Homo sapiens: one gene and its partners. The protein of the gene in region 1 purifies or fractionates together with the protein of each later gene. This does not show direct contact. Each region holds a gene or a part of one and is shown on either strand. Other genes may lie near its edges.

Region 1 (3,500 bases):
CATTTAGGTTGTAGCAGGCAACATAATGGTTACACAGCTGACCACTTTTCCTTATTTTATTTTATTTTTGAGACAGAGTTTTGTTCTCGTTGCCCAGGCTGGAGTGCAATGGCATGATCTCGGCTCACTGCAACCTCCGCCTCCTGAGTCCAAGCGATTCTCCTGCCTCACCTTCCCGAGTAGCTGAGATTACAGGCACCCGCCACCAGGCCTGGCTAATTTTTGTGTTTTAGTAGAGATGGGGTTTCACCATGTTGGTCAGGCTGGTCTTGAACTCCTGACCTCAGGTGATCCACCCGCCTCGGCCTCCCAAAGTACTGGGATTATAGGTGTGAACCACTGCACCCGGCCTGCTTTTCTTTATTTACCTCCTTTTTTCTTGAGGCCTCTTATTCCCCCATGTTCTGTGAGTATTGCCTCTCCCACATACAGTCATATGCATTGCTTAATGCTGAGTATGTTCTGAGGTGCAGGCTTAGGTGATTTTGTCATTGTGTGAACATCATAGAGTATACTTAGACAAACCTAGATGGTGTAGCCTGCTATACACCTACCTATAGAGTATAGCCAGTTGCTTCTAGGCTACAAACCTGTTGATATACTGAATACTGTAGGCAGTTGTGATACAATAGTAAATATTTGTATGTTTAAACATAGAAAAGGTACAGTAAAAATTCAGTATAAAAGATTTTAAAAATGGTACACCAGTGTTGGGCACTAATATGAATGGAGCTTGCAGGACTGGAAGCAGCTGTGAGTGAGTCAGTGAGTGGGCAGTGAGTGAATGTGAAGGCCTGGGACATTACTATACACTACTGTAAACCAGTGATTGGCTTTAGCATGGGCATGTGGTAGAGACCTGACTGATCAAAGATACGTAAAGAGAGGCTTGAGGGAAATATTTTTCTCCCTGGATAAAAAGAGAGACATGAAGATGAACCTTCCATCCAAACAAGATTTCTGAGGAGGAAAAAAAATAAAAATTGTATTTTAAAAAAGATAAATCTTCCAGTTTTGAATATGATTATGCAAGGTTATCTTGGGACTCTGAGGGTAAATTTGAGCGTGCTTGGATTTTTGGTACTGTCCTAGAATCACCCATTTCTCCTGACTTCTTTTTATGTGAAAGTTTTCCTCTGTTTTACCCACTTTGGTTGAGTGTTCTGTTATTGCAATAGTTCACATTAGAAAAACATTTACAATATTGTAATAAGGATTCTCTTTTTTTGAGACATAGTCTCGCTCTGTCGCCCAGGCTGGAGTGCAGTGGCGTGATCTCAGCTCACTGCAAGCTGCGCTTCCCGGGTTCATGCCATTCTCCTCAGCCTCCCGAGTAGCTCGTACTACAGGCGCCCGTCACCATGCCTGGCTAATTTTTTTGAATCTTCAGTAGAGATGGAGTTTCACCGTGTTAGCCAGGATGTACTCGATCTCCTGACCTCATGATCCACCCACCTCGGCCTCCCAAAGTGCTGGGATTACAGGCGTGAGCCACCATGCCTGGCCCCAGTAAGGATTCTTGAATGTGTCTTTGCGTGCCTAAGTGCAAGGGTAATTAAAATGGAACTTGGGGGCTGTAGAGTGTGTTCATATTTGGCTGTAGTAAATGTCAAGTTGCTTTCCAAAATGGCTGTACCAATATATACTTCCACCAGACGCATAAGGTAGTTTGTTTCTTTATATTAGACCTTTACTTAACATCTAGTATTGTGAGATACTAATTTTTGCCTGTTACTGTCTTAGAGCCTTATCTAGATTTGAATTGCCTAGATTATTAGTCATCATGTTGCTGTTTTACCAACCTGTTTTATGTTCTTTTCATAGTTGTCTATGTAGTAGTGGAGTTTTTTTATTACTATATGTGCTTTATATACTCTGGATACTGATGTTTTATATACATTGTTTATATATACACATTGCAAATATCTTCTAGTATATGGCTTGCTATAAGCTTCCCCCTCCCCTGCCGCCACCGAGACAGAGTCTTGCTGTGTCTCCCAGGCTGGCAGGCTGAAGTGTGGTGGCACAATCTTGGCTCACTGCAACCTCCACCTCCCGAGTTCAAGCAATTCTCCTGCCTCGGCCTCCTGAGTAGCTGGGATTATAGGCGCCTGCCACAGCGCCTGGCCTATAAGCTTTTTTTTTTTTTATAGTGTCCTTTATTATAGAGTATTTTTTAAAGAATTTAGTTAATCAAAAATTTTCATCATGATATGTGCTTTGTGTCTTGCCTAAAAAATATTTCCCTATCCCAAAGACATAAAGACATTCTCTTACATTTTCTTCTAGAACTTGTTGATAATTTTGCTTTTCACATATAGGTTTTTAATGTTCTTGGAATTGACTTTTGTGTGTAGTGTGAGGAAGAAACATTTTCACAGTCAATATTATTGATGCTCTTTCAGAACTCTGTTCCACTCCACTGGCCTATCTACCCCTGTGCTAGTTCTATGTTATTTTCGTTAGTATAATTTTATAAAAAGAAGTCTTTAATACCTTGCTAATCTTCTGAATTGTCTTGATTGTCCTTGGGTTTTTGCTTTTATGAGTTTTTGAATGTGCTTATGAAGTCTCACCAAAACTAAACAGCTACCAGGATTTTAACTGGCATTGAGTTAAATTTGTATATACACTTGGGAAGATTTTATGTACCTTATGCAGTATATCCCATCTATTCATGTAGATGATGTGTTTCTCCAGGTTTTTCAGTTCTTTGCTGTCCTTCAATAACATCTTAATAAGTTTTTCCTTTTAGTGGTTTTATATGTCTTGTTCTAATTAATTCTAGAAACCATACAATGTTGTTTATAATTACATTTTGTGATTGGTTTTCAGTGAAGAAAATTTGATTTTTATAAAACTTTGTATTGAAATAGACTGTGTTCAGAAAGTACACAGAGCATAAGTGCCATGAATTATCACAAAGTAAACATATTTACATAACTACTACTGATATCAGGAAAGACCATTACACTTTGCAGTCCCCTCCATTCTGGTCTTCTCCCAATTATTACCCTCTATCTCTCTTTCAAAAAGTAATCATGGCCAGGTATGGTAGCTCACACCTGCAATCTTAGCACTTTGGGAATTTGAGTTGGGAGGAGTGCTTGAGGCTAGGAGTTTGAGACCAGCCTGGACAATAGAGCAAGACCCCAAAAAGAAGAAAATTAAAACTGAGCGTGGTGGCACACACAGCTACTTGGAAGGCTAAGGTGGGAAGATCTCTTGTGCCTGGAAGTTTAAGGCTCCAGTGAGCTATGATTGCGCCACTGTACTCTAGCCTGGGTGTCACAGTGACATCCTGTCTCAAAAACAAACAAAAAAAAATCCACAAAGTTTAGTTTTATTCCTTTTTACCTTTATATAAGAATTATACTGCTTTCTTTGGTGTTTGTCATTTTTTTCCCAATATTTGTGAAATTCATCTATGCATGAAGCTGTAATTTCATTTTTATTCCTGTGTGATAGATTTTTCTGTTTCATTTATCATTTTGTTGTTG
Region 2 (3,500 bases), on another chromosome or scaffold:
TATAAAATATTTAGTTTGGATTTTAACATAAATTCAAAATTTACAGTAAAAATTAAAAGAATCATTTTATTTCTGAAAGCTAGTAAATTAAGAATGGAATTTTTTTTAACGAAACTTGGCAATCAATATAGCATCCAAACATATATATCTAACTTTATATGTATATTTTTATTTTTTCCTTTTCATAGGTATTGATATATTTTTATTAACAAAATAATTCTAAAATTATTTATATGAATCTTGAAAGCTTAACGTCCTGCAGTCTTATTATCTGAGCGACCCAAGCAAAAATTAGGCCTTTAATTCATTTTATACTTAATTCTACTCAGATGAAATAGCAAGACAGCAAATTTCCAATTAGACTATAGATAATTACTTTCTTAATGCATCAGTGGTAGTTCTTTCTCCCTCTCACTCAGCAAGGTAAGAACCAAGTGGTGTATTTCTGGAAAGTCTCAGGAATTAAGGATTTAAATTACAGTAATGGGTAAGGTTTTGGCCTTAAGCTAGACACAGGAGTTAACCAAAAGTCTACAAAAGGAACAATTTAACCCTTGCCCACAGCTCTACCCTATTTCTAGAATGTTAGTCTGTCAAGAACATACATGCAGGGCAAAAGATAGTAGACTAGTCCCACTAGGCAATACATTTCCAATTATTTCTTTTGCACCTTACTTGAAAATGTGAGTAGACACCTGCCTTCTGAAGAAAACTTTGACTATTAAAGAGAGCTAAAACAAATAGCAATAAGGAACCTGAAGAAAACAGAACTAATGCAACAAAAGAAAACTTCAAAATTACACTTAAGAGAAAAAAGTCTGTCTATAAAAAAAAAAACAAACCAACAACAGTATGCTAAAAGACAACATCAGTAAGAAAACAAAAGAAAAACCTCGGAAATTAAAAATGTGACACCTGGCTGGGCGCGGTGGTTCACGCCTGTAATCCCAGCACTTTGGGAGGTGGAGGTGGAGGTGGGTGGATCACTTGAGGTCAGGAATTTGAGACCAGCCTGGCCAACATTGCAAAACCCTGTCACTATTAAAAATACAAAAAGTAGCCAGGCGTGGTGGCGTGCATCTCTAATCCCAGCTACTTGGGAGGTTGAGGCAGGAGAATCGCTTGAACCCAGGAGGTGGAGATTGCAGTGAGCCAAGATTGGACCATTGCACTCTATCTAGCCTGGGCAACAGAGCAAGACTCCATCCCCCACCAAAAAAAAAAAAAAAAAAAAAAGGACTTAGAATTTAAAAGAGAAAGTTGAGAAAACCTCCTGCAAAGGAAAATAAAACAAAACTAAATGATAAAAATAAGAAACAGATAAGATAAAGGAATAAAGGATGAACCCAGGCAGACTAATCAACTGATAGAAACTCCTAAAAGAGACAAAAAAATTTTTCAAAGAAATATTTAATAATGTAAGAGTATTTCAAAAAGCTCCCAAGGATAGAGGCCTCTAGCTTGAAAGGGCCCACATAATGCCTAGCATAATAAGTAAAGAATAATCATTCCTGTAATTGCAGCACTTTGGGAGGCGAAGGTGGGAGGACAGCTTGAGCCCAGGATTAGGTGCCTACAGTGAGCTATGACTGTGTGACTGCACTCCTTTTTCACCTGGGTGATAGAGAAAGACCCTGTCTTTATCAAAAAAGAAAAACAAATCTATACCAAGGCACATCATCATGAAATCAGAACAAAATAGAAAAAGAAGAGACTCCAATAGCTTCCAAAATTAAAACAATTTACATTTAAAAGATTAGGAGAAAGAAGAGGGTTGAATTTTAAAACTGCAACCCATGAAGCTAGAACACAATAAGCTAACCAAACTTTTAAGAGTGGGTAGATGCCGGGCGCGGTGGCTCATGCCTACAATCCTAGCACTTTGGGAGGCCAAGGCAGGTGGATTGCCTGAGCTCAGGAGTTTTGACACCAGCCCGGGCAACACGGTGAAACCCTGTCTCTACTAAAATACTACAAAATTCGCTGGGCGTGGCGTTGTGCACCTGTAGTCCCAGCTACTCAGGAGGCTGAGGCAGGAGAATTGCTAGAACCAGGGAGGTGGAGGTTCCAGTGAGCTGAGCTTGTGCCACTGCACTCCAGCCTGGGAAACAGAGTGAGACTCTGTCTCTAAAAAAAAAAAAAAAAAAAAGTGGGTAGAAAAACTTTTTGGATGTGACAGGACTTATCAGGCATCCTTTCTCAGGAATTTCTGGAAAGACACACCCCCGTGAAGTAAATGAGGAAATTTCTTTTTTTACATGGGGAAATTCCCCACATAGTAAGTCTACAAAAGGCCTGGAGAATGAATCCAGACTGGATAGGAATGTAGAGGATCCAATGGGAAAAACAAAAATGCAGGATAGGTATATGGCAGATATGATGGAATATCTGCAAAGAAATTAAGGGTATGTACATAGAAAACTATGCAATCTATTTTTTAAAAAGCAATCATTTATTCCAGTAGGGCAAGCTGCACAAAAAATGAAATACTGTCCCAGCACTTTGGGAGGCCGAGGCAGGTGGATCACCTGAGGTCGGGAGCTCGAGACCAGCCTGGCCAACATGGTGAAATCCCATCTCTACTAAAAATACAAAAAATTAGCTAGGCATGGTGGCAGGCACCTGTAATCCCAGCTACTTGGGAGACTGAGGTGGGAGAATAGCTTGAACCCGGGAGGCAAAGGTTGCAGTGAGCTGAGATGATGCCAAGGCACTCCAGCCTGGGCAACAGAGTGAGACTCTGTCTCAAGAAAAAAAAAAAAAGAAAAAGAAAAGAAATACTGTACATTACTTGGTTCTGAAGTACATAGACACCACATGGTTAAAAGGTAAACAATGATTACTAATTTAACAAAAAATTATGATTTAATTACACTGGGACAATGTAGATAAATTATGTTAGTTAAAAAACAAGAATTGAATATTTAAAAATGATAATTCAAGAAAATTAGTGTAAAATTTTATTTTAAAATATGGTAATAAACACTAGAAGAATCAGCTACAGGTTTTAAAAGTGGTTGCATCTGAGAGAGAAACAGGGGTGTGGGGGAGAATAAGGGTGAAGAATAGTTATTTTTACTTTGAAAAATATTTTAAATTATAACACAAACAAGAGTTTCTAAATTTTGAAAGTGCATTGCATTAATAAAAAAATTAATTGGGATATTTGTTTTAACTTATCAGAACACATGCCATTTACATCTTTTAAATTTCCTTAATTTCTAATAAAAAAAAAATCACCTCTATGCAGTTAGTTCACTTCTCATATACACTCAACTTCAGTTTCTTCCCCACTCCAAGCATGCTGACATTCACTACCCAAAAACACTTCTCAAGGGAAATAAGTTCCTGTTTATCCATTTATAACTTTCCCCTCAAAGTTCTAGTTCAAGGCCATTTTTCTTTTTAACATGAGTTTGAGTTTACTCAAAATACTGTAGAGTCTGAGAACTAATCAGCCCACACAGGGACTTTTTAAATACAGCTTCCTAAGTAGTCTT
Region 3 (3,500 bases), on another chromosome or scaffold:
GGTGGGCATGACAACGTGACTAATTTGGAACTTGAGGAATGAGGGATTATATTGAGTCAACACTGAATAAAAAATGATGTCCAGGTATTTTAGGTCAATGATTCATTTAGAGTAAATAAAGATTAAGAAGTCACAAGTTACATGCTTTTAATGACATGATCAACAGTTGGTGTTGTTCTGGCGCAGTGGCTAACACCTGTAATCCCAGCACTTTGGGAGGCCGTGGCGGATGGATCACTTGAGGTGAGGCTTTCGAGACGAGCCTGGCCAATATGGTGAAACCCCATCTCTACTAAAAAAAAAAAAAAAAAAAAAATTAGCCGGGTATGGTGGCACATGCCTGTAGTCCCAGCTACTCGGGAGGCTGAGGCAGGAGAATCGCTTGAACCTAGGAGGTGGAGTCAGCTGTGAGCCAGGATCCCACCACTGCACTCCAGCCTGGGCAACAGAGTGAGACTCTGTCTCAAAAACAAAAAAACAGTTGGTGTTTACTAACCTAGTAGAACCAAGGCACCCAAGGAGCTGAGTTTTCTTTGTTTATATGCACAGATTGCTTCACCTGTGGTATCAGACATCACAACATGGGGCTCACCAAGCAGTACCTACGCTATGTTGCTAGTGCGGTCTTTGGCGTTATCGGCAGCCAAAAAGGTAATATTGTCTTTGTGACACTTCGTGGTGAGAAAGGACGTTATGTGGCAGTACCAGCTTGTGAACACGTTTTCATCTGGGACTTAAGGAAAGGAGAGAAGGTGAGCCTAAAATGACCAGTTTGATACTGATTTATTGGTATTTGAGGATGGAGAGGTAGTAGAAGTGGGGGGGCTCTGATTTATTTATCATGAGTTTTTTTGTGTCTGTGCCCTTAGAAGAAAAATCTTTTTCCTTTAGGTCTAGCTAGCCAAGCATCAAGTTCCTTTGTGTTCTTCGCCACTGAATTCTGAAAACCACAATGAAATAGGAGCTTATTTCTTAGATGTCTATTTGTTGGAATATTTACAGGTCATTATTTGCAGTAATTATTTATTCCTGATGTATTTTTTCTCTACCAATTCTATTTTTCAAGCTCGACTTATGCTTATAGCTGGTTATAAAATATTAGGCATGTAAAAGGAAGGTTAGTCTATTTTGGCAGAATCTTTTTCTAATATGGATAATGCCCAAGTGTTGTTAAAGTAGACTTTGATACTTTGTGTGACTGAATTCCCTAAGCCTACCACTTTTGCCAAACCAAATATAGGCATTTTGATATTGTCCATTCATTTTGTGATTCCCAAGAGGTTAGTACTTTGATTCTTGTTGCCACCAAGAGTCCTTTGTGGTTAAAACCACTGCAGTACTCTGTTGCCACACAGATTATTTTCTTATAAAATGGGTCTCAGTTAAAGGAATTTATAAACCTTTATTGAAAATCACGTAGTGTTGTTCTAGGGTTAAGAATTAGATTAAAGGGATTAAATTTATTTTATTGCCTAGGGAGTTTTTATATGTATTACAACAACGTAGGGCTTTGGAGAAAATAATTAAGCCTTTTCTTAAATGTTTCATTGCCTAGTACAAATACTAATTTCTATATTAAAAAACTTGAAATGGATTGTGGAGTTTCATTTTTATTCATAAGAGTAATTTGGAATTATTGGTGCTCTTAATTTTACTGTGCCTGAGTATTCCTATGCTTTTCCCTTGAGTTCATGCTTAACTCTTCTACATTGTTTTTAATTTTTATGATTTCAGATTCTTATCCTTCAGGGGCTTAAACAAGAAGTTACTTGCTTATGCCCCTCCCCAGATGGGCTACACTTAGCTGTTGGGTATGAGGATGGGTCGATCCGAATCTTCAGTCTCCTGAGTGGGGAAGGAAATGTGACCTTCAATGGTCACAAAGCAGCTATCACTACCTTGAAGTATGATCAGCTAGGAGGCAGACTGGCATCTGGGTCCAAGGTGAGCCTTTGAATCAGCCCAGGCTTTGATCTATTAAAGGAATGTAAGGCTTATGCTGAAGCAAGTTGTTGACAAAAATTGTCAGGTAAAACAATGGGCTGTCAATATACAAAGTAGTATAATGATAGAGTGAAGAGGATGGGTGTGAATTGGGTGGTTCATTTTGTTTCCTTTTGTTCATTTTGTCATATTTTCTGATAAAAGCCTCTTAAGTGTAGGAATAAGATGAAGAGAGCCATGATAACTCTTATTGTGGAAGTGCTACGCAAAACAGTAAAATAAGGAAAGAAAACAAAGACTGGAAAAGAAGAGACAAAATAATTATTTGCCATTGACTTCTGTAAAGTCAGTAGAATTTCCTGTATCTCACAAGTCATGAGTTAGAAAATATAAAAGATTCCATTCACAACAGATTAAGTAACAGACATAAAAATACCATGAAACTTTACTGAAGAATGGAATAGAAGACTTTTATAGAGATATAATCCATGTTCTTGAATGGGAAGACAAGGTATTGAAAAGATGGTAGTGTTTTCTAATTGATTTATATAGCTAAAGCTATGTTTAGACATATGTTTATATAGATACAGATATATTTAAATAGATATCTTAAAGGTTTTAGTTGTTACTTAGAACTTGACCTAATATGGAAAAGCAAAGGAATTGGAAACACTAAAATTTGGGAAGAAAAGAATAATAAAACAGGGGTTTTAGATATTAAAATGTCATATAAACCCATAATTTAAGAAGTATCATATTGATACTTCAATGCAAGTACCAATGCAAAATAGATTATTGCAACCAAATGGAAATCTCAGAAACACATCCATGATTACATTCCTAATTAGTATATTTTAAAGACGACATTTTAATAAGTAGAAAAATGATAGATTACTTATAAAACAGTCCTTAGACAATTGGCTATTTGAGCGAAATTTTTAAATTAAAGCTTTACCTCATGCTATATACCAAAATGAAACAAAGATTAAAGACTTAACTATTAAAAAATAGCATTTTAAAGTAAACTAGAAAATATGTAAGTAAATATCCGATAGCAAGGTAGAAAAGGACTTTATTAGCAAAGAAATAAATTAAAAAAGGAAACTGTTGGTAGATTGGAATACTTGAAACATTTGTACATTAAAAACAAGTCAGAGGACACTGAAAAAGTTAAAATATTTAATATTTTCAATATAAAAAGAAAGGATTAGTATCATTCATCTATTAATAACTTACAGTCAAATAAGAGATGACACTCTAAGAATGATAGACAAAAGAAAGTCATGAATTGGCAATTCAAAAGAGATACTTTATGGCCAATAATCACCATAAAGCATGTAAAATATTTCTCATTTGTATTCATAAAAAATGTAAATTAAAATAAATATTAAGACTGAACATTTTTTACTTATGATATTTGTAGTAGTTTTTGAGAAAACTAATAATAGAGTTAAATGAATGGGGAACAGGCCTTGTCATACATATCCCTGCTGGTTCTATAGATTTACCCAACCTGGAGATCATTTTGATAGTATGAATCCAAAACTTTAAAAATA
Region 4 (3,500 bases), about 110 Mb from region 1:
ACAGGCGTGAGCCACCGCGCCCGGCCAATACTGTATGTATTCTTTGAAATTTCCTTTCACTCATCTGAGGCAGATGTTCTTACCGTTGCTGTGATTCATTCTTTTTCCAATTCATTCTGTGCATATTGAACTGTTGAGCCTTTGAATCTGAATAGCCTTTTTTTTTTTTTTTTTGAGACGGAGTCTCGCACTTTCTCGCCCAGGCTGGAGTGCAGTGGCGCGATCTCAGCTCACTGCAAGCTCCGCCTCCTGGGTTCACGCCATTCTCCTGCCTCAGCTTCCTGAGTAGCTGGGACTACAGGCGCCCGCCACCACGCCTGGCTAATTTTTTTTTGTATTTTTAGTAGAGACGGGGTTTCACCGTGTTAGCCAGGATGGTGTCGATCTACTGACCTTGTGATCCGCCCGCCTCGGTCTCCCAAAGTGCTGGGATTACAGGCGTGAGCCACCGCGCCCAGCCCCTGAGTAGCCTTTTTAAAATTCAGTTACAAAAACTGCCGTCAACATTCTTCCACATTCTCTAGGTGCACACAGACAAAAGATTCCCTCCCCGGGAATTTATTTAAGAGTGAAATTACGGTATCATAGGAGGTATATGTGTTTAACTTGACTAAAAATATGAACAAATTTTTCAAAGTGGTTGTGCTGATTTACACTCCTACCAGCAGGGTATAAGCACTTCTGCTGCCCTTTATCTTCACTAACACTTGATATCATGAAACTTGTAGTTTCTTACCGGTTTGGTAAATGTAAAATGCTAGCTCACGGATGTTAATCATGCACTTCTTTGATGACTAATGAGATTGAGCATCTTTTCATATGTTTACTGGCCATTTATGTTTGTTGTTCTTTGAGTGCCCTTTGACAGGTTTCTCCATTTTTCTACTAAGCATTCATCATTTACTTACTGATATGTAAGAGTTCATAATGCATTCTGAATACCAAACTTTTGTCTGTCATGTATGTTGTACATATCGCCAGTTTCTGAACCTTATATTTTCAATCAATGTAGGCTGTGAAAAGACGAAGAAAAAGGCCGAGCGTGGTGGCTCACGCCTGTTGTAATTCCAGCACTTTGGGAGGCCCAGGCGGGCAGATCACCCGGAGTTCGAGACCAGCCTGGCCAACGTGGTGAAACCCCGTCTCTACTAAAAATACAAAAATTAGCTGGGCATGGTGCCAGGCGCCTATGATCCCAACTCCTTGGGAGGCTGAGGCAGGAGAATTGCTTGAACCCAGGAGGCGGAGGTTGCAGTGAGCCAAGATCTCACCATTGCACTCCAGCCCCGGCGACAGAGTGAGACTCTATCTCAAAAGAATAAAACAAAAACAAAAGATGAAGAAAAAGTCTTAACGTAGTTGGACTTATCTCTTACTTTTTGATTTGGAGAGTGAGAGAGAGAGAGAGAGAGAGAGAGAGAGAGTGTGTGTGTGTGTGTGTGTGTGCGCGTGTGTGTGTGAGAAAGAGAAAGATTTAAGAAATTGTTTTCTACTTTAGACTCATAAAAATATTCTATATTGTCTTCTAGAGATATTTTTCATTGTTCTTTTGAATCCGTCTTTAAACCATGTGGAATTGATTTTTTGTGTGTATAGGATATGGGGAGAGATCCAATTCTGTTTTCCCCACATGCAGATAATCACCTGTTCAGCACCATTTATTGTCCATTCCCTTTTTTTCTCAGTGCTCTTTAGTGACCTTGCTGTTGTAAAACAGATTTCAACATCTGTTTCTGGTCTTTCCGTTCTATTCCATGGGCCAGTTTGTCTCTACCCTGGTGCCATTCCATCTTACTGTAGTTATTATAGGTTTATTATTTGTTATGGTGTTACTTATTATTTATTAGTTTAGCTCTTGATATATAAAACAAGTCCCTCTATCTCATTTTTCTTGGGAGCATCTTGACTCTCCTTGGCCCTTTTTGTAACTTGCATCAACATTTGAGTCAGCTTACCATGCCCCACAAAAAAATTCTTTTTAAATTTTGGTTATTAATTGTATTGAATCCACAAATCTGTTGACATTTTATTATGAACCTTCCAGTCCATGAAGTTGGTATTTATATTTTTTAAAGTCCTTTAGTGTCTTTGAATACATTTTTACTAATTTGCTTCATAAAGGGCTGCCTATCTTTGGTTAGATTTATTCATAGGCACTTTTTTAAAATGCTGTTGCAAATGGCTTATTTTTTTATTGCAGTAAAATATACATAGCATAAAATTTATTTTAACCCCTTTTAGGTGTACAGTTCAGTAGCATTAAGTATATTCACATTCTTGGAACCATCACCACTGTCCATCTCCAGAATTCTTCCATTATCCCAAACTTGAAAACTCTCTACCCACTAAACCGTAACTCCCCGTTCTCCCTTTCCTCAAGCTTCTGGCAACCACTGTTCTACTTTCCTTCTCTTTGAATTTGGCACATCTCGATGGAATCACAAATGACATTTTTTTGGTTTTTTGAGATAGGAGTCCCGCTCTGTCACCCAGGCTGGAGTGCAGTGGCGCAACCTCAGCTTACTGCAACCTCTGCCTCCTGGGTTCAAGTGATTCTCTTCCCTCAGCCACCCGAGTAGCTGAGATTACAGGCACACACCACCATGCCTCACTAATTTTTTTGTAATAAATGACATATTTTTAATAATATGTTTTTCTGTCTGTTTTGCAGTGAAGAAATACAATCAGTACTTTATTTAGGAGGTCTCTATCTAACAGCTTTGCTTACTGCTTCTAATAACTTAGCTGTATTTGGGTTTTCAGCATAAACAAGCAGATCACATGTGAATAAAACTATGAAACCCACCTACAGAATTTTAAATTTTAACTTTTTTAAAAATATTTTTTAAAGACAGAGTCTCACTCTGTCGCCTAGGCTGGAGTGCAGTGGCATGATCTCGGCTCACTGCAACCTCCGTCTCCTGAGTTCAAGCCATTCTTCTGCTTCAGCCTCCCAAGTAGCTGAGATTACAGGCGCCCACCACCACGCCCGGCTAATTTTTGTATGTTTAGTAGAGATGGGGTTTCACCAGGTTGGTCAGGGTGGTCTTGAACTCCTGACCTCAGGTGATCCGCCCACCTCAGTCTCCCAAAGTGCTGAGATTACAGGCGTGAGCCACTGCGCCTGGCATATTTTAACTTTTTTTTTTTTAAACAAATACAAATGAGATCTCTCTATGTTGCCTTGGCTGGTCTTGAACTCCTGGCCTCAAGCAGCCCTCTTGTCTTAGCCTCCCAAAGTGTTGGAATTACAGGTGTGAGCTATGGCACCCAGCCCTGTTCAAGCTTCTTTCTTTCCTTTATTATTATTATTATTATTATTATTATTATTATTATTTTTATTTTTTCCAGACAGGGTCTTGTTCTGTTCCCAAGCTGGAGTGCAGTAGTTTGATCATGGTCACTGCAGCTTCGAGCTCCTGGGCTCAAGCATTCCTCCCACCTCAACCTTCCAAGTAGCTAAGGCTACAGGCACAGGCCACAATGCCCAGCTAATTTTT
Region 5 (4,179 bases), on another chromosome or scaffold:
ATGTCTTTCGGATGGTCCCCTGCAGGCAAAGGGGCTAGCCTTTGACAATTTCTCCACACGCTTCGGGGCTAGCTGGTATATTCCAATTAAACCAACATGTTTCCATCACAGACTTCATAGCCATCAAGCAATCATAGCCTTACCCAATGGAGAAAAGGAGCGGGCTTGGAGCGCGTCCACGGGAGTGGGCCTCCCTCTGCGCGCCTCTGGGAATGTTTGCGGTGCTTAAGTCAGACCCGGATTGCTCCAAGCCCAGCTTATCCTCCCCAGTTCTGCCAGGGTTTTTTTCCTCTTGTTTGTTCGTTTGTTTTTGCCTCTCTTTGATTTAACTTTTGCTCCTTGACTAAATATGTGCTTAACGCTAGACAAAGGACACTTCATACCCAAGTCTGTGTCTTTGTTCCAAGATCTGCAATTTCATTTGGTTCCTGTCGGCTTTACAAGTTCAAAACTATGCCCCCGTTTAGGAAATGAATTCAAAGCATGCGGCAAGGGAGACATTCGACAAACCCGGATGCTCTGGAAAACGTTGCCCTTCCTCGAGTTTCTTTCAGTAAAATCTGAATTTTGTTCCCGGGAGGAGTTGGGTTTGTGATTGCTACAGTGTAAGTTGCACCGAAATACTACATCATGTTCTTTGGGACATACATTCTGTTTCAGAATAAGAATGATATTCTTCCTTTCCTAAAATGTGAGAGTTTTATATGGACCTTTTTAAAATAAAAAATTGGAAGCCCTTGGAGTCAAGGCCAGAGTAAGACTCGCAGAAACCAAAGACAGAAAATATTTGGAACCCCCCCTCCTCAGACATGAACCACACTGAAATGTGTCCAGATACAATTCTTCAAAATCCTGGCTTTTCACAGGATGATTTGTTATTGAAAAAGTTGTTTGCTTCAGAATCTGAATTGTTTTAAAAGATTCTGTTGGTTGCCCCTGCTTTGCGGACGCCTTTTGTACGTTCTTCCTGATGTAGCGCTGCGAGGGGCGACTTTACCTCGGCGTTTGACAGGTACGCAGCATTCCCGCACCCGCCTGCGCCTCGCGAGCAGAAAGACGGCGGACTCTGCACCGCTCCACGACACTGGGGACCCGCCCCGGCCAGACCCGTCCCCTACCGAGACCTTGTCCCCGCCCCGCCCCCGGCCGGGGCCCCGCCCCGCCAGCCCCGCCCCCGCCAGCCCCCTCTCCTACCGAGACCTCGTCCCCGCCCACCAGCCCCGCCCCGCCCCCCCCCCGACAGAGGCCCCGCCCCGGCCCCGGCCAGCCCCGCCCCCGCTTGCGCGAGGCCTAGGGCTGCAGGCGCGGAGCCGCGAGCCCCAGCCAATGAGCGCCGGCGGGCCGGTTGCCCAGGCGACCAGTGCGCGGCTCCGCCCCCCGCGGCGAGGCTCCCGCGCGCGGCTGAGTGCGGACTGGAGTGGGAACCCGGGTCCCCGCGCTTAGAGAACACGCGATGACCACGTGGAGCCTCCGGCGGAGGCCGGCCCGCACGCTGGGACTCCTGCTGCTGGTCGTCTTGGGCTTCCTGGTGCTCCGCAGGTGAGAGAGAGCTTCGCGCAGCACCTGCCGGACCCCACATTCCCCAGCCCTCCGCACCTCGGGTTCTCTCCTCCCGCGACCCGCGAATCCCGAGTTCCCGGGGGGAGCAGCCCCAGCTGCTTCTTTCTGGGAGCTCCCCAATACCCCCGAGTTCCCCTGCGGCTGCAGGCACTCTACTCCTGCCGCGCGATCCAGGCCTCTGGGCGACACCCGGCGTGCCCTCGGGAGCCGGCGTCTGTGCCCCGAGCCGCCCACCCCGCCGCGCCTGTGACGCCGGGCTCTGCCCCCCGTGGACGCCCGCAGCCCTCCAGCCGTCAGAGCCCTCTCAGACGCACCCCATCGCGGCCCCGTCCCCACTGCTCCGCGGAGAGCTCCCTCTGCCCTTCCCCCAGGCCCCCCTTTTCCTCCCAAGCCTCTGGGAGGCGCCTTATTCCGCAGAGGCCGGCGCTTCAGCCTGGCAGGTATGGTCTAGCCAGCTGGCCTGGCAGGGTCGTAAGAACAGTGTCCGTGGGCCTCCAAGATCCCGGGCCATGATTTATTTGCACAGTAGGACTGATAGGTCGTCTCTCTCCACTTTCCCACCATTCACCTGTTACCAGCTCACCCTTTCCTCTCCCCCTTTTCCAAATGTTGTTTATGGCAAAGGAGTGGCTTCAGTGATACTGTGATTTACCCACAGCCTGTGAAAAAGTTTTCTGGGTGCCCTAGCCCAGCATTTTTCTAAACTGTGCTTATTTTAAGGATTCTACAGCCCTGACCCTATCTTTCAGGTCAGCACTTTCCATATTCAAAACCTCCAGTGGGAAGCCGACCGGCAGTATCGAATGAACTGAACGGTTGGAAGTGGTGGCAGGCCCTACGCCGCTCGGCTTTGTCATTTGCTTCTTTTTTACTTAGAGAAACTAAGTTCTTAGTTTCTCTGCACTTCCCCTGGGAGACAGGGAAGTTTTTGATGGAGATAAATATCTGGAAGTCCTTTGTGGCCAGAAGAACACACTGACAAACTCTATGTTTACACCTTGTCAAGACTGGATTCTTGTTTCTGAGATAGTGGGGACGTCATGATATTGTTTGGGAGAAGGACGGATTTTCTTCTCATTCTGGGGCCCAGAAAACTTCAGGCATTTAACTTCTCCGGTTGTTCCCAAGATGTTTTCTGTCCTGCCTAAGATCTCTAAGCCATTCCTCTCTGAAGATTGGCCCTGGCTCCTGTGGGATGCTCAGCTTTCCTCCCTGTGCAAGGCTTACGCAAACCCCAGAAGAATTACTCAGAGCAGCGGCAGCAGATCCTCCTGCATACAGCAGGGTAGCAAGGCGTGCAAGCTGCCAAGAGAAAGGCTAGCGGCTGCAGGCCTGTTGTTGGTCAGGGATACAGGAGTCCGTGCAGGGGACCCAGGCAGGTCACTATTTGGGGCAGCACTGTGGGCTTGAGATGGGCTGAGTGGTACACCCAAAAAGTCCCCAGGAAAAGGTATGCGAAGGAGGCTGAGGGTTTGTTATTGTTTGGTGGGACAGAGGTGAGGTGGCAGGGAGCTGACCTAGCTGGGAAGACGCCTGAGCTTCTTTGAGGTGAGGTAACTGTGTCCCCACCTAGGTGGGGTGACCGCACTAGGAGTCAGTCTTGGGCCATTGGAGCAGGTGGAATGGCAACAGAGAATAAAGAGCTGCAACCAAATTCTGTGAAAACAGTTTGGCCTGCCTGGGAAGGATGTTTTTCTTGCCTCTCCATCCTTCTAGCAGGTAGAACAGAAGCTCAAGGAGCTCTGAACCAAGTTCAGGGCCGTGTCTTCAGATCCTGTGGAATACGTGTCTTTTTGGCATCTTTTTGATTTTTTCACCCTCATGGGTACATTCTGCCAGTTCCTCCTGTCTGACTTGGGCTGGACACCAGTGAGTATGAGTTGCTGTAATATCTCTGGAGGCAGGAGGAGAACATCCTCTTTGTCTTTCCCTCTTCCTGTCTTGCCCCAGCTCTGACTGGGTCATTAACTGAGTGGGAGGTGGGGCCTCTCCCAGCTGTTACTGGGCAGTGTTGAGGTGGCCAGTGGAATATAGGTCACGTGGAAACTGGCCACCAAGTTCACTCTTTGTGGAGCCGAGCTGTCAGGAGCAGCCCCTTTCCTGTAGCAGAAGGCAGGTATTTGGACAGTGGCTGGCATGGGCTGGGGGATGTTTGGCTATAGCTTTTCTTTTTTTTCATCAACTTTTCCTTGGGCTGGTTCACGGTCAGTCATAGCTGGTGGGTTACATCATATCAAAAGACTAGGATGACCAGGTTGACTTTTGGGGAGGATTTCAGTCTTAGAATTTTTATTTTTATTTTTTTTAAGCGTAAACAGTGGTCTTTCTTAAAAATTACCTTTATTGGAGTTTAATTAATATGTACAATTTGATAAGCTTTGACACATATCTAAATCCAGCTGTGAATCTATCACCACAGTTAAGATTGTGAAAACAGCCACCAGCCCCCAAAGTTTCCATGTACCTCTCTGTCATCCCTCCCTCCTACTCCTCCCTGCTCCCCAGCCCCAAGCAACCACTGATCTGTTGCTTTCCGACACGATATATTGGTTTGCATTTTCTAGTGTTTTATAGAATTGTAATCTTAAAGCATGTTTTCCTTTTTGGTCTGGCTTCTTT
Region 6 (4,024 bases), on another chromosome or scaffold:
TGGCTCCTCCTCCAAGCCCCCTCCTCCAGCCCCACCCTTCGGGGCTATCTGGCCACACCTGGACAGAGTCTGCCTGCCCTCCCTCAGTGAGCCTGTGGGCCGCATGTGGCCTGCTCCCCAAAGAACGGAGGTGCCCGCTCCCTGCTTAGGCCTTCTGCCAGCTCTCAAGTCCCCAAAAGACAAACATCCTCACTAGGACCTGGCTACACACGGGACATTTGTGCTCCCTGCCCAACTTCCAGAGTCGGTCTGCCCCAGTTGCCCCCCGGGGACCCGCACCCTGCTGCCTCCCAGTCCAAGTCCAGCTTCCCCGCTGGCTCCCTAGGGCCTGTCCCTCTGTCTTGCTCCCTTCCCACACCTTCCTTCTGCTCTGTGCTGTTACCCACCTTACCTGATGCAGGAGTTCCCACTCTCTAGCCCCAGCCTCTCCTGGAAATCCGACAGCCAGCAGAATCCACCGCCCAGGCTCCCCCAGCCCCCTTCACTCCTCAACTAGGACTGCAGGGTTTCCATCCCGGGGGTCTCCTTCTGTCTTTACCTCTACTTCCTACCGCAGTCCACAGCCTGGCCATTCTACTTCCTCTGTATCTCTCCCATCCGTCCCTACGGAGACCCCTTCCCCCAGGCCTCTGGTCCGGACCGAGTCTACCACAGGCCTCAAGCATCCTGCTCGGTCCGCCCCTTGCGAGCTCTGAGTGCGCAGGAGTGCGCAGGGGGAGCTGACCGCACACCCCAGCACTACAAGGACTTCGCGGTGGGGTGCTGTGGAGTTGGCTTTCGGCCTCGACCTGGGCTGTCTGCGGGCCCCACTCCCTTGGCCGGTTCCGAGGCGCTGGGAGCGGGGGTGGGCTTGCGGAGTCGCGTCCGTGTCCCCGATCCGCCTTCCCGTCCCGGGCCTGGCCTACGCAGTGGGCGCGCAGGGGCGGCTGCTTCGGTAGATGTCTAGGGAGCGGAGGGAAAGGCGCGGGAACCGGGGATTCCTCGGGCGGACCCTCCCTCCACCAGCGCTCGGCGGGCCTCCTCCAAGTTCGCCCCCAAGTTTGCGAGCGGCCAAATGGGGGCGGGGGCTGCGCGGAGGGGCGGTGGCTAGGCCGGAGGGTGGGGTCTGGAGCGCGGGGCGGGCGCTGCCGCCTGGCCGGCCGCGGCTGGCCCGGGATCAGGGAGCCGATGTGGAATTTCCTGCCCGGCTCGGCGCCCCTCCTGCCGCCCCCCGCCCGGCCTCGCACTCCGCTTCCGGCCGCTCTCGCTGCGGCCGCACCCGCGCCCGTGCCCGCCCCGCGCCTGCCCCGCGCCTCATGGAGGGCGCAGGGCCCCGGGGGGCCGGGCCGGCGCGGCGCCGGGGAGCCGGGGGGCCGCCGTCACCGCTGCTGCCGTCGCTGCTGCTGCTGCTGCTGCTCTGGATGCTGCCGGACACCGTGGCGCCTCAGGAACTGAACCCTCGCGGCCGCAACGTGTGCCGTGCTCCCGGGTAGGAGCCGGCCTGGCTGGGGGAGGGGGCGAGAGGGACGCTCTGGGCAGTGGTGTGGCGGCGCCGGGCATTGGGAGGGGGCTACCGGAACCTTCCTACGCCAAGTGTGGGCCCCTTCGGCTCCCTAGCCAGCGCGGCTCCGTTCCAGGCCCAGCCTCGGCCATGGGCCACGACAGTGCATCCCAGGGAACCCTGGACGAGAAGTCACCTGAGGGGAGGATGGAGTGCCGTGGGCACCCAGGGGATGACACGCGTTGTCCGGGATATCAGGAAAGACCTGGAAAAAGGGACCCTTGACCGAGTTGTGAAGTCCACGGGGAAAAGCTGGGGAAGGGCATTCAAGCCAAAGGAACTGCATGTGCTAAAGCCCCGCACTAGTCCGACTGGAGCCGGGAGTGGGAGTGAGGAGGAAGGTCAGGGGAGGAGGAGCGGTGCTAGCCGGGGAGGTCCTGGAGCAAGCCAGACTTGGAAAGACAGATTCGCGTCTTAGAGCGGGCGCGGGTGGGAGGGTGGTGACCCAGGCGAGCGTCGAGGAGCCGGCGCTCGAAGTGGACCAGAAGCGGGAGGCGGAAGGACTATGACAGGCACAGGGGACCGGAGGATGTGGGAACCCTGGCGACAACCAGGTGGGGATTCTGGGTGCAAGAAGGGGCCGCGCAAATGTGGGGCGCCGGCTGGGGAAGCCAGTGTGGGACAGGCAGGCGACAGGCCCGGCCGGTGGGGGGGCGAGTCCGGGAGTTTGCACGGAGGGCAGAGAGGTGAGCCCCGGACGCCAGGAGTTAGGAGCTGGGGTCGGGGGAGCCGGTGGGCTGGCCAAAGGCCACAAGGTCAAGGGCATCTCCACGCAGGGGTGAGGAGCGGGCGTGTGGGGGCGCCTTGGCGCGGATTGGAGACGCCGCACGGGCTGGCAGCCGCAGAGGCGGCCGCCGGGCTCCGAGCTGGGTCGCGTCGGGGCGCCTGAGCCACGGACCCGGGGCAAGCCGAGTCCAGGGGCTCGGCGCCAGAGACAAGGGGCTGCGAGGGGGCAGCGCGGGGTTTCCGAACTCTGGTCCGGAGGCGCGCAGACCCCTCCCCGCTGCGAGCCCCGCCTCCGGGGCGGGGGCCGGCCTGGCCCGCCATCTGCTTCGCATCGATGCCGCCGCCGCGGACTCCCGGGCCTCCCCGGCCCCAGGAATGCAGCGGCGGCGGCGGGCGGGGCGGTGCCTGGAGAGGGGGAGGGCGCGATCGCCGTGGTCTCTGTCTACTCACTCCAGCCCTCTTTCCCAGACAGGCCCGGGACCAGGAATGGGGGTCCGGTGCCAGGCTCTAGCTGTCCGGAGCCTGAGAGCCCTTTGCTCCCGCTCCCCTGGTCTGCAGACCTCCCAGGAGGCGCCTGCTCCAGGAACCGAGCCTGGGTTTGGGTTCCCATCCTGGTGCCACCCTACCCAGCTGTGTGGACCTGGGCAAGTCATTTGACCTCTCTGGGCCTGTCTCCACCTCTGTAAAATGGGATAGTGATCACAACCCCCTCATGGGGCTAAGTGGAGATCGCTGTGGTCATGAGTGGCAAGGGTCGATGGGAAGGACAGCCACTCTGGGCACTGCCCACCTGGGGTCTGGGTCATGTCTTTGTTGTCCTCCCACATCTTGCAAGGCTTCCATCAGCCCTTCCCTTTCCTGGGAGGCAGGAGGATGGGGAGAGGAGAGTGCAAAGCCAGTAAAATCCTATGCACCTACACTGTGCCAGGCCTGTATTGGTGTAGGGAAGCTGCAGTGGAGACCCTGACCCTGTGGCAGAGGAGACACAGTCCAGAAAAGCAAGTGTGTCTAGACATCTAGCAAGAGCTGGGAGGTGTTGGGTTGGGGAGTGCTGTTTCCTTTAGGGTGTTCTGAGGAGAACGGCTGAGAAGGTGGTGAGTGAGCACAGGCCTGCAGAAGAGCACGGAGGCCCTGTGGGTGTCTGGGGCAAGGTTCCCAAGGCAGAGGGCCTGTGGAAGTACAGGAAGGATCCAGGAGGCTGGGCAGAGTCCAGGAGGGGCTGGCGGAGGAGCTGCCAGAGAGTGAGGGTGGGCAGGCCACCGTGGGCTGCCACTGCTCAGAAGACTTGGGCTTTTCTTCTGAGGGCCATGGGACCCCCTGGGGGCTTTGTACAGAGAAAGGGTGGGATCTGACCAGGATTGGCTGCCAGGTGGCAAACACTTCGCACCCTGGGGGGCAGGGGGTGGAAGCTGGGGCCAGTTACAAAAAGCCAGGGAGATGGAGGGTGGCTCTCACAAGGCTGGGATAGGGAAGGAGGAAGTGATCCCATTTTAGATATCGTTTAGAAGCTAGAGCTCAGCGTCTTTTTTCTCAATGGATCTGGTGTAGACAAGAAAGAAGAGTCAGAGATGCTTCTCCAGGTCTCAGCTTCCCAGCCTGAAAGGACAGGCAGGGTTATCTGAGGCAGGGAAGACTCAGGGTGCAAGGAGGTCAAGAGTTCAGGTTTGGGCTGGTTGGGCATGAGGCCCATGAGGTCTCCTTCTGGTGACATCATCTATTGGGCAGTTGGATTTGCAAGTCTAGCATTGATGGGGAGAG
Region 7 (3,500 bases), about 90 Mb from region 1:
GTCCATGACTGGTGAGTTTCAATAATTTATTAAAATAGCATATTTAACCATGGTTAACCAAGAATATGTTAACTTTGTGCCCCCCAACCTGCCCCCGCCCCAGATACGCAGCAAAACACAGTAGTGATTTCAAATATCCTTGATCATGACCAACAGGAATATTTCAAAGTCAAGTTTGCAACTCAAAAGTAGACCTTGGAAAAACTCTGAATTAAAAGAGAAACATAAAGCTCTCACACAGAATTCTTTTATCTGCCCTAAAATCAATGCCGGCGCACCACCACCTGACAATACTGCTAGGATTTTTCTTTATGCATAGTATAACGACTCATTTATTAAGTACCCACTTTCATAAATAAAATCGGCATTTTTTGTCCCGCTTAATGTTCCTTTTCAGCTTCACAAAGAAACCAGTAAATAAAACTGTCAACGACAGTCACAACATATGCTCTCACAGCAAGATAAAAAAACTTGAAAATACGCAGAGATGCATCTACGCTATTTTACATAAAAAGAGAGATTCAAAAAGTGCAAGGCAAAATCTGCAGTTTTTTGAGGGGAGCTTTTAGGCACATCCATTTCATTAAAGCAAGCTTCAGAATGAAATTCCAGTTTGTTCTTCATGACACCTGTTAAAGTCTTTCTTTAAACGACAACAAAAAAAAGCCAAAAATACATCCCATCAAGTGTACAATGGTAGTCTTGTGTCCTAAAAGTGAGGAGTTCAGCTGTGGCGAGTCCGTCCTTTCTTTATTCTGGCAGGCTTTGGTTTGGGGATGTACTGATTATTTGCCTGGTACTCGAGTTCTTTACGGAAGTAGTGAATTGCTTTGTTTAAACCTTCCTCCAGCGGGACCTGTTTAAAGGGAAAGCAAGAAAGGGAGACAAGGTCACATTGACAGAAGGGCATCGCAGGAAGGAAGTGCCACCTTGCAGGAAGGAAGTGCCACCTTGCAGCCAGTCAGGCCTCCTTCAGAGGAACACTCACAGAACCATGCTTTGGTTGTGACAGCATCCAGCATCACGGCCCACCGAGAGAAGCCAGAAGTCCTTCAGGGCCGCTTTCAGAATGTACTGTGGAGCTGACAAGTGTCACTCTTACTGACGTAAAGTGAGCTCCACCTCACAAAAGACCCCGACTACCTCTTGCTGGTATAATGTCTACTCCAGTTTGAATCGGCTGGCAAGATTGTTTTTCAGATAATGCCCATGTGCCCCATTCTTTCAGAAGAAATCCACCTTGGAGTGGCGGGAAGATGCTTTGGGAAGGTGATCTGCATCTGATCAACACGCCTGATTCTCCCACGTGACATCAACCCTTTGCACTGCCTAGCGGATCATGGCCCACTTGCACCCCCACCATACTAAGAGGCTGAGTCTGAGAGGGGACCCACGGCAGCCCACACCACAGAAAGCAACCTTCATCTGAAGCTGCTTTGCAGCCAACAGGAAACCAGCCAGATCAACTGCTGATTAACAGCAGAAAGAGAAAAGGTGAAGGGAGGCACTGCTAAGGGGTGCTGGGGCACCACTGGGGGAGAAGGTCTGTCAGCTTGACTGCAGCGATGGTTTCACAGGTGTCAAAATAGATGAAAACTTATCAAATTGTATCTTCTAAATATGGGCAGTGTGCAGTTTGCCAATTATATCTCAACAAGCTGTTAAACACACACACTTGGGACAATTAAGATGGATAATGCCTGTAAGTTTCTTTGGATCATATCCCTCAAAAATTTATTATAAATTAAAACTACTACTAGAAGAGAAACCAGTGGTAGATGGCTCACATTCCAAGAATGTTAGAATATTATAGGTCTAAATTCCAGAAAGATAAAGATACTGAGCATACACACACCTCACATAAAAAGCAATAGTTAATACATAGTGAATGTATATTTAAATCTTCAAAAAATATTTTGTTTAAAAATATAGGCTCTCCTTACAAAGGGACCAATGGCCCCTTACAAAGCTTCAAAAAAACAAGAAACCTAGGCTGCTATAACCTGTTTTGCACAGCTTGGGATTATTCGATTTTGTGAAGTCTGGGTGTAATTGTATTTTTATTTCACTCAACAAATTTCTGCAGTTTTTAGCAGATTACGTAGACTTGTACATGACAGAATGAAATAAGGATCAGGCTGGAACTCTCATGTCCCTTTGAAGTTCAATATTCTAGGATTCTACTCACTCAGCTCTGACTATGCACATTTTAAAAAGGTAAACTGAGCTCTCAACTGCGTCCCTGACTCTCTGACTGCGCCACAACCCAAGGGCCATGCCAAGATGCTCCTACATTTGTTGAGCACCCAGTGTGTGTCAGGTCTGACAGGTGCCGGGCTCCTGCTGGACACAGGGCTACACTACACGCCTCTGCCCGAGGGGAGCCCGAATTTCAGTGGGGCACATGAGGGTGGGCAAAGAGGGAACAGCCAGGCAGAGGTGACAGTAAATGAGGTGGGCTTGCTTCTATAGATGGGGCCAACCCAGCCAACCTCCCTACACAGGTGGTCTCTGAAGGACACAGGCAGCCCTGAGGACGAGCGTTCTCTGGCGGGGAGGAGCCTGCAGTCACCCAAGGCAGGAAGGGCACAGCAGGCGGCAGAGCAGAAGCAGGCGGGGTTCAGGCTCAGCCCCAGGGAGGCAGCAGCCGCCCCACCCTGCCCCCTTCAGTAGACACACTGAAGACAACAGGAAGGCATGCAGTTCCCCTTCCTCCACACCCTTCAGTCTCGCACGCTTCCAACCAGGGGCTCCACTGCGGGGCTGATGGGGACCACTTGCCCCTGACCTGGCCCCGCACACTCAATAGGCAGGCAACTGGGGCTACGCAGGGCTCTGAGCGTGTGCTGCCAGCGCCCTTGGCACAGCGTTCACAGTCAGGGGTGTGTGTGTGTGTGTGTGTGTATGTATGTGGGAGAGGGAGTGTATGTGTGAATGTGAGTGTGGATCAGTGAGTGTGCGCATGTGAGTGAATGTGAGAATGTGTATGATAGTGTGAATGTATATGTATGTGTGAAAATGAGTGTGTGTGAGTATACTTGTATTAAGTGTGTTTGTATGACAGTGTATATATGACAGTGTGAGTGTGTGGGAGACAGTGTGAGTATATGTGTGTACAAGTGTTTGTATGGCAGTGTATGTGTATGAGAGAATGTAAGAATGTGTGTGTGCATGAGAGATTTTACGAAAACAGAGCCCAGAGCAGGGGCTTCCAGCCGCTTCCCAGGTAACATTCTCTGAGACTCCTGATACAGGAGAGGCTGTTTACCACTTGGAGAAAACCCTCTATCTGCCTGGATGCCGAGCCCACCTTGCTCCTCCGGGGGCTGTCTGACAAGGGTCAGTGCCTACAGGACAGCAGACACAGGACACGGGAGGCCCCTCCCCACAAGGCAGCATTAACTCCCTGCACTTACCACGGGCTCCCACCCCAGCATCAGCTTTGCTTTTTTGATGTCTGGTTTTCTTTTCTGTGGGTCATCCTGGGCTTCGGAGAGAAA

What was found.
Region 2: the proteins of SLC39A10 (region 1) and ITFG1 purify together in Homo sapiens (affinity purification with mass spectrometry; one large-scale study listed by BioGRID and IntAct). This does not show direct contact.
Region 3: the proteins of SLC39A10 (region 1) and WDR3 purify together in Homo sapiens (affinity purification with mass spectrometry; one large-scale study listed by BioGRID and IntAct). This does not show direct contact.
Region 4: the proteins of SLC39A10 (region 1) and KCMF1 purify together in Homo sapiens (affinity purification with mass spectrometry; one large-scale study listed by BioGRID and IntAct). This does not show direct contact.
Region 5: the proteins of SLC39A10 (region 1) and GLB1L2 purify together in Homo sapiens (affinity purification with mass spectrometry; one large-scale study listed by BioGRID and IntAct). This does not show direct contact.
Region 6: the proteins of SLC39A10 (region 1) and SCARF2 purify together in Homo sapiens (affinity purification with mass spectrometry; one large-scale study listed by BioGRID and IntAct). This does not show direct contact.
Region 7: the proteins of SLC39A10 (region 1) and UXS1 purify together in Homo sapiens (co-immunoprecipitation; 2 studies listed by BioGRID and IntAct, with this or other methods). This does not show direct contact.

The regions. Positions count from the first base shown.
Region 1 is NC_000002.12:195,674,226-195,677,725, forward strand, and holds part of SLC39A10 (zinc transporter ZIP10 precursor), read left to right. Parts: intron 1-1,236; exon of another isoform or gene 1,237-1,496; coding exon of another isoform or gene 1,497-1,509; intron 1,510-3,500. UniProt on the Homo sapiens protein: Zinc-influx transporter. When associated with SLC39A6, the heterodimer formed by SLC39A10 and SLC39A6 mediates cellular zinc uptake to trigger cells to undergo epithelial-to-mesenchymal transition (EMT).
Region 2 is NC_000016.10:47,454,564-47,458,063, forward strand, and holds part of ITFG1 (T-cell immunomodulatory protein isoform 1 precursor), read right to left. Parts: intron 1-3,500. UniProt on the Homo sapiens protein: Modulator of T-cell function. Has a protective effect in graft versus host disease model.
Region 3 is NC_000001.11:117,932,739-117,936,238, forward strand, and holds part of WDR3 (WD repeat-containing protein 3), read left to right. Parts: intron 1-549; 5' UTR 550-581; coding exon 582-752; intron 753-1,734; coding exon 1,735-1,944; intron 1,945-3,500. UniProt on the Homo sapiens protein: Part of the small subunit (SSU) processome, first precursor of the small eukaryotic ribosomal subunit.
Region 4 is NC_000002.12:85,023,161-85,026,660, forward strand, and holds part of KCMF1 (E3 ubiquitin-protein ligase KCMF1), read left to right. Parts: intron 1-3,500. UniProt on the Homo sapiens protein: E3 ubiquitin-protein ligase which accepts ubiquitin from an E2 ubiquitin-conjugating enzyme and then transfers it to targeted substrates, promoting their degradation by the proteasome.
Region 5 is NC_000011.10:134,330,609-134,334,787, forward strand, and holds the start of GLB1L2 (beta-galactosidase-1-like protein 2 isoform b precursor), read left to right. Parts: upstream 1-1,379; 5' UTR 1,380-1,453; coding exon 1,454-1,539; intron 1,540-4,179.
Region 6 is NC_000022.11:20,435,026-20,439,049, reverse strand, and holds the start of SCARF2 (scavenger receptor class F member 2 isoform 2 precursor), read left to right. Parts: upstream 1-1,224; 5' UTR 1,225-1,295; coding exon 1,296-1,468; intron 1,469-4,024. UniProt on the Homo sapiens protein: Probable adhesion protein, which mediates homophilic and heterophilic interactions. In contrast to SCARF1, it poorly mediates the binding and degradation of acetylated low density lipoprotein (Ac-LDL).
Region 7 is NC_000002.12:106,093,302-106,096,801, forward strand, and holds the end of UXS1 (UDP-glucuronic acid decarboxylase 1), read right to left. Parts: coding exon 3,417-3,500; intron 857-3,416; coding exon 725-856; 3' UTR 10-724; downstream 1-9. UniProt on the Homo sapiens protein: Catalyzes the NAD-dependent decarboxylation of UDP-glucuronic acid to UDP-xylose. Necessary for the biosynthesis of the core tetrasaccharide in glycosaminoglycan biosynthesis.